Regions from separate parts of the Homo sapiens genome. Here region 2 is reported to be linked to region 1. The links are microRNA targets in miRTarBase. Many come from high-throughput screens and were not tested one by one. Region 1 holds a microRNA gene; the other region holds the end of a gene's coding sequence.
What was found. Region 1 holds the annotated microRNA hsa-miR-767-3p (UCUGCUCAUACCCCAUGGUUUCU, at 1,847-1,869, shown strand). A microRNA usually pairs through its seed, bases 2 to 8, with sites in the 3' UTR of a target mRNA and lowers its output. Matches are read on the target gene's strand: a 7mer-m8 pairs with bases 2 to 8, a 7mer-A1 pairs with bases 2 to 7 and ends in A, and an 8mer does both.

Region 2: the mRNA of CACNA1A is a reported target of hsa-miR-767-3p. Seed matches in the 3' UTR shown: 7mer-A1 at 811-817.

What each region holds. Positions count from the first base shown.
Region 1 is chrX:152,392,008-152,395,315 of GRCh38, reverse strand. It overlaps MIR767 (microRNA 767), which reads left to right and starts at 1,787; the gene lies at 1,787-1,895. The region is part of intron 1 of GABRA3 (gamma-aminobutyric acid type A receptor subunit alpha3); the gene reads left to right. MIR105-2 (microRNA 105-2) reads left to right here and starts at 824; the gene lies at 824-904. MIR105-1 (microRNA 105-1) reads left to right here and starts at 3,017; the gene lies at 3,017-3,097.
Region 2 is chr19:13,204,546-13,207,853 of GRCh38, reverse strand. CACNA1A (calcium voltage-gated channel subunit alpha1 A) reads left to right here. Exons shown (of 47, transcript NM_001127222.2): 47 at 1-1,412. The coding sequence ends at 541. Among named protein-coding and RNA genes, the nearest start is that of IER2, 56 kb to the right of the region's middle.

The DNA.
Region 1 (3,308 bases):
TTGTGGTCACTGGCTCCTGCAGAATGGGTATTTTCTCCATATTTGCTGTCTGTTCCTGTATCATGCTTACTAACTGTATCATAGCTGTTAGTTTGTGTAATGGGATCGTTTGGATTTATATCATGCCCAAACACAAATGTGTAGAGTCAATCACCATGGTTATTTTTTTTATGAGTCATTATGTCCATGTGAGTCTTTTTTTTGTACCACTGTCATCTTCTCTTGGGCCAAAGTCATTAATTGCTTGCATGGTTATTTTTGATTACATACCATATCTACCCAAGTAAGAATCACACCATGTTTTATTTCCATATCATGTCCATCTGCACCTGTGTCATAATTGATAGCCTATGTCCTGTAGGTGTCTGACTGGACCTCATGAACACATATTAAAACATGCTTTTTGGCATCTTATTCATCTGAACATCCTGTATTATTTTGATCTTCTTTTTGACAAAATGCCATACATACCCGTATTTTTTGTATCACCTGAGCAGTTTTTACTCTGTGATTCTTTCCTGGGATACCATATCTATCCCCTTTTTCATGTATGAATTGACCTATTCTCCATGATAATATAAACATACATAATGAATTTGTGCTCATATACTGTGATTGAAGTTGTACTACGTATTTAAACTTAAACACCACACTTGTGTGAAAATACACAATCATTGTCTACTTGTACTGGGAATGAGTATTTTGTACTATGTATATTAATTTCTACACCATGTCTTTCACTATTGTGATGAGTTTTCTCTGTCCTTTGTCATCTGTCTACTCCCTATAACCTGGTATCAGCTCATGTTGCAGATCTTCTGTGTGTGCATCGTGGTCAAATGCTCAGACTCCTGTGGTGGCTGCTTATGCACCACGGATGTTTGAGCATGTGCTATGGTGTCTACTTTTGCAACATTGCCATCTGCTTCTGGAACAAAGCCACTCATTTTTCTGCTCTGTTTTAAAATCTGGTATCATGTCTGTCAGAAGAATCACAGCATATTGTCATTTATTGTCATATTTACAATAATGGATAGTGGAGCCAAAATGACTGAATTTGAATCCTGGATTATCCACTTACTAGCTATGAGATCTTGGACACATCAGTTCATGAAATGGACACATCAATTCGTATCTTCATGCTTCAGTTTCCTGCAAAATGACAAAAAAAGTAGTAAGGTTATTGTGAGGATTGTATAAGCTATTATACATAAAATATTTTTAATACTGCCTGGCAGGTAGTGATGATGATGATAACAATGATGATGATGATGATGACATGACAATGATGATAATGATACTGTGTCCCTTGATCGTGTATAATAATTGTCAGCTCAAATTCTGGAGTTCTCTAAGTGTGCATTATGGTCAAATGCTGATACTTGTGATAGTGTTTAAAGCATCATTATATAAGTATATGCCATGGCAGTCATTTGAATCGTTGCCATCTGTAGTATTCTATTAGCTACTGCACTATCGTTTTCTGCTATTTTATTATCAGCATCTTCTTCAATATCCTTGTTCATCTGCTCCTATATTATGGTCATCAGCTTATTTTTGTTGGGATATCTGGGTGTACATCGTGGTTTAACAGTCAAATATTAGTGTTAGTTGCTCATGCACCATGATTGCCTGAGTATGTGCCATGATATCTCCTCCAGCATCATTGTCATATGCTGTTTGCCTAAATAAGTTGTATTCATGTGTTATGTTTCCTTTATTCATATGTCCTGTCCATCTGGGCATATTCCTCATTGTGTTATTCACTCTTGTATCACACCCACCTGCTTTTATATTGTAGGTTTTTGCTCATGCACCATGGTTGTCTGAGCATGCAGCATGCTTGTCTGCTCATACCCCATGGTTTCTGAGCAGGAACCTTCATTGTCTACTGCTTTACAGGGAAATAGTGTTTTATGCATCGTGTATATGAGTTTAGTATTTACTCATATTCTATGACTCTCTACTCTTAGATCACTTCTGCCTTTTTCTGCACATTGTTTATCTGTTCCAAAAAGACAGATGTTATCTCATGTCACTGGGCTTTCTAATTGTACATCAGTCAAATGCTTAAATGCCTATGATGTGATGGCTGTTCATGCAACATGGCTGTTTCAGCATATATCATAACTTCACCCGTTTAATCATTGCCATCTTCTCCCAGACTAAAGAAAATAATGATTTTTAATCACCAACCATATCCGTTTTGGTAATCATGGTTTCATGTCTACCTGCTCCTGTATCATTCTTTTACTTTATGTCGTGGGATTGTGTAGGTAGCCATCATAGTCAAATGCCCAAATACTAGTGGTGGCTGTTCATGCAATGGTCATCTGAGTATATGGTGTCAGGTCTCTTTTGACATATCTGACATCTACTCATGGACAAAGCTGTTTACCCCTGTACCGTGGCTCTTGTATAAGGCACAATATCTGTCTAAGTAAGCACCACAGCATGGTTTTATTCTCCGAAAACAAGTTTGTGTGCTGTATCTATCTATGCCTCTTAGCTCCTTTGGCATAAATGCTACGTAATAGTGTAAACTACTTTTGTGTACCTGTGTAAGTCAAGATCAAACAGTCAAATATCACTAATGGCTTTCATCAACTTTTGTCTGAACATGTTACACGGTGGGTCCTCTATGCACCTTTGCCACCTACATTTGAAATAATCATTCATGTATTGAGATGTTTTGATCTTGTACTATATCCATCTATGAGGTCTCCACTTATGATTATTTTCTCATAAGATGTCTCTTGGCTCTAAGTGAGCCCTGGCTAATTTTCCATGGTTGTATGAATGTGCTTATGCCCTTTAGCTATGGTCTTCTGCTCATTCATCATGATTTGTGAAAATGCACCATCGTTGTCTACATTGTACTAAAAATGGAATTTTCTGTACCATGAATATAATTTTGTGCACCATGATTTTTTGTCATACAGTGTGTTTGCCTCCTTCTTCGTCCTCAGTATCTACTCCTATATATTGGATGTCAGCTTCTGTTGCAGAACCTGAGTGTGCATCGTGGTCAAATGCTCAGACTCCTGTGGTGGCTGCTCATGCACCACGGATGTTTGAGCATGTGCTACGGTGTCTACTTTTGCTACATTGCCGTCTGCTTCTGGACCAAAGCCATTTGTTCCTGTGCTCTGTGTTTCTAATCTTGTATCACATCCATATGAGGAAGCATGGCACCATCAGTGTATGTGCACAATGCTCACTGCTTGGACTTAAATCCCAGTTCTCCTATTTAATAGTTTGAAATTCTTGAGGAAGTCATTTCACCCTTCTGTTTCTGTTTTCTAAAC
Region 2 (3,308 bases), not on the chromosome of region 1:
GGCCAGGCCGGGCCGGGCGGCCACCAGCGGCCCTCGGAGGTACCCAGGCCCCACGGCCGAGCCTCTGGCCGGAGATCGGCCGCCCACGGGGGGCCACAGCAGCGGCCGCTCGCCCAGGATGGAGAGGCGGGTCCCAGGCCCGGCCCGGAGCGAGTCCCCCAGGGCCTGTCGACACGGCGGGGCCCGGTGGCCGGCATCTGGCCCGCACGTGTCCGAGGGGCCCCCGGGTCCCCGGCACCATGGCTACTACCGGGGCTCCGACTACGACGAGGCCGATGGCCCGGGCAGCGGGGGCGGCGAGGAGGCCATGGCCGGGGCCTACGACGCGCCACCCCCCGTACGACACGCGTCCTCGGGCGCCACCGGGCGCTCGCCCAGGACTCCCCGGGCCTCGGGCCCGGCCTGCGCCTCGCCTTCTCGGCACGGCCGGCGACTCCCCAACGGCTACTACCCGGCGCACGGACTGGCCAGGCCCCGCGGGCCGGGCTCCAGGAAGGGCCTGCACGAACCCTACAGCGAGAGTGACGATGATTGGTGCTAAGCCCGGGCGAGGTGGCGCCCGCCCGGCCCCCCACGCACCCCACGCACACACCCCACCCGAGGAGCCGCGCAGAGGCCGCGGGGGCCCAGCACAGAGGGCCCGGGAGAGGGCCAGCCGGGAGACCCCAGACTCTGGAGAGGCCAGGGCTGGGCCACAAGGGTGTCCCGCAGAGACCCTCGGCCAAAAGAGACCCTCCTGGGCAGCCACGGCGCCCCCCAACCAGCCCCGATCCCCCCACCCACGACAGGGGCTCTCGGGTGGGAGGCAGGGAGCAGACAAACCACACAGCCAAGGGATTTGAATTAACTCAGCCATTTTTGGAGAACTTTGGGGAACATGAAAAAAAAAAAAAAAAAAAAAAAAAAAAACATTTTTAAAAGAAAAAACGGGGAGAAAAAAATAGCTTCTATTGATGAGTTTTATCATCTCAATTGAATCTTTCCTTTCCCTGATGAAGACAGCTGGTGGCCGAGTGCGGCAAAGAAGCCAGAAGGAACCAGAATCCCAGTGCCCTACACCCACCACCAGACACACTCACACCCACACACGTTCTCAGACACACACAAGAGTGCTTGCCGGTTATACCAAACCCTACTATTACTGCCTGCAGAAATCAATTTAAAAAAATAATAATAACAATAAACAATTTTAAAAAGGACAAAAAAATTAATGATTGAGAAAAGAGGCATTTTTTTCTGACATTTGGTCCTGCTTGAAACAACAAAAGAAGAAGAAAAACCCACCATCACCACCGATTCCTTTGCTTCTTTTTTCCTTTTTTCCTACCTTGTTTGAAAACCGTGGGCTTGGGACTGTGAATTATTGCATGACATTCAAAAAGAAAAAAAAAATAAAAAAAAGTTGAATCAAAGGGCTTTTGGATAGGAGTGGTCTTTGTCCCTTGGCTAGGTGCTGCCTGGGTGGGTCTCTCTTGGGGAATCATACAAAGAGGCACTTCTTTGTTAGCTCCTAGAAGCACTGTTTGAAAGCGACAAGGAGGCCGGGCATCATGCACGCCTGTAATCCCAGCACTTTGGGAGGCTAAGGCAGATGGATCACTTGAGGTCAGGAGTTCGAGACCAGCCCGACCAACATGGCAAAACCTCATCTCTACTAAAAATACAAAAAAAATTAGCCATGCGTGGTTGCACAAACTGTAATCCCAGCTACTCCGGAGGCTGAGGCATGAGAATCACCTGAGCCTGAGAGGCGGAGGTTAGCAGTGAGCCAAGATCCCACCACTGCACTCCAGCCTGAGTGACGGAATGAGACTCTTGTCTCAAAATAAAAAAAAAAAAGGCAGGGCGCGGTGGCTCACGCCTATAATCCCAGCACTTTGGGAGGCCGAGGTGGGTGGATCACATGAGGTCAGGAGTTCACAACCAGCCTGGCCAACATAGTGAAACGCCGTCTTTACTACAAATACAAAAATTAGCCACGCGTGGTGGTGGGTGCCTGTAATCCCAGCTACTCGGGAAGCTGAGGCAGGAGAATTGCTTGAACCCAGGAGGCGGAGGTTGCAGTGAACCAAGATCGTGCCACTGCACTCCAACCTGGGTGACAGAGCAAGACTCCATCTTAGATAATTAATAATAATAATTTGGTCTCGTGGACACCAACCCCCGCCCCCACGAAGTGTTTCAGCCATCCCCAGAGTCCAATACCCCTTTGAGAGCTTCTGTTCTCACAACAGTACCTGACCCATAGCAAGCTACTATTGACTATCACCATTACTACTGTAGCATTAAGGCAAACATTTTGAACAGGTCTTGTTCCAGACAACAGGCCCTGCTTGAGCTTACCTTGGGTAAGAAATCTGCAGACTCCAGATAGCAAGACAGGTGTAAGTCCTTCTAAAATAATGGTAAGCCAAATGTGGTGGCACACACCTGTAGTCCCAGCTGTTCAGGAGGCTGAGGCAGGAGGATCACTTGAGCCCACGAGGTCAAGACCAGCTATGATCACACCTGTGAATAACCATTGCATTCCAGCCTGGGTGACGTAGAAAGATCCCATCTCTAAAAAAATTAAAAGTAAAAATAAATAAATAAAATAATGGCATCTAGGAAAAGATCAGTCCAACGAGAAGTCAAAGTTTTGAGGTCGAGTGCGGTGTCTGACTCTTGTAATCTCAACACTTTGGGAGAATCACTTGAGGCCAGTAGTTCAAGACCAGCCTGGGCAACATAGCAAGACGCTGTCTCTAAAAAAAAAAGTTTGTTTTTTTTAAGGCTGGGTACAGAGGCTCACGCCTGTAATCCCAGCACTTTGGGAGGCCAAGGTGAGCAGATCACCAAGTCAGGAGTTTGAGACCAGCCTGGCCAACATAGTGAAACCCTGTCTCTACTAAAAATAAAAAAATTAGCCAGGTGTGGTGGTGCATGCCTATATTCCCAGATACTTGGCAGGCTGAGGCAGGAAAATCGCTTGAACCTGGGAGGCAGAGGTTGCAGTGAGCTGAGATTGCGTCACTGCACTGCAGCCTGGGCGACAGAGTGAGACTACGTCTCAAAAAAAAAAAAAAAAAAAAATGGAATGGAAGGGAGGGAGGGAGGGGTTTAACTTTCTAACCAGGCAATCTGGCAACCACCACAGGCTTCTAAACAAGCTGCCCATCCATTGCAGAGCTGGCCTCTGGTCCCCCTCCCATGGTGCTGGGGTTGAGTGTGTCCAGGAGCCACTGGAGTAAGCCAGGGTTTGTGCAATTCCCTCTGCTGTCAATGAGGCTGCAGCCATCTGTCCTCCCAGGAATGAAGTTCACTACCGA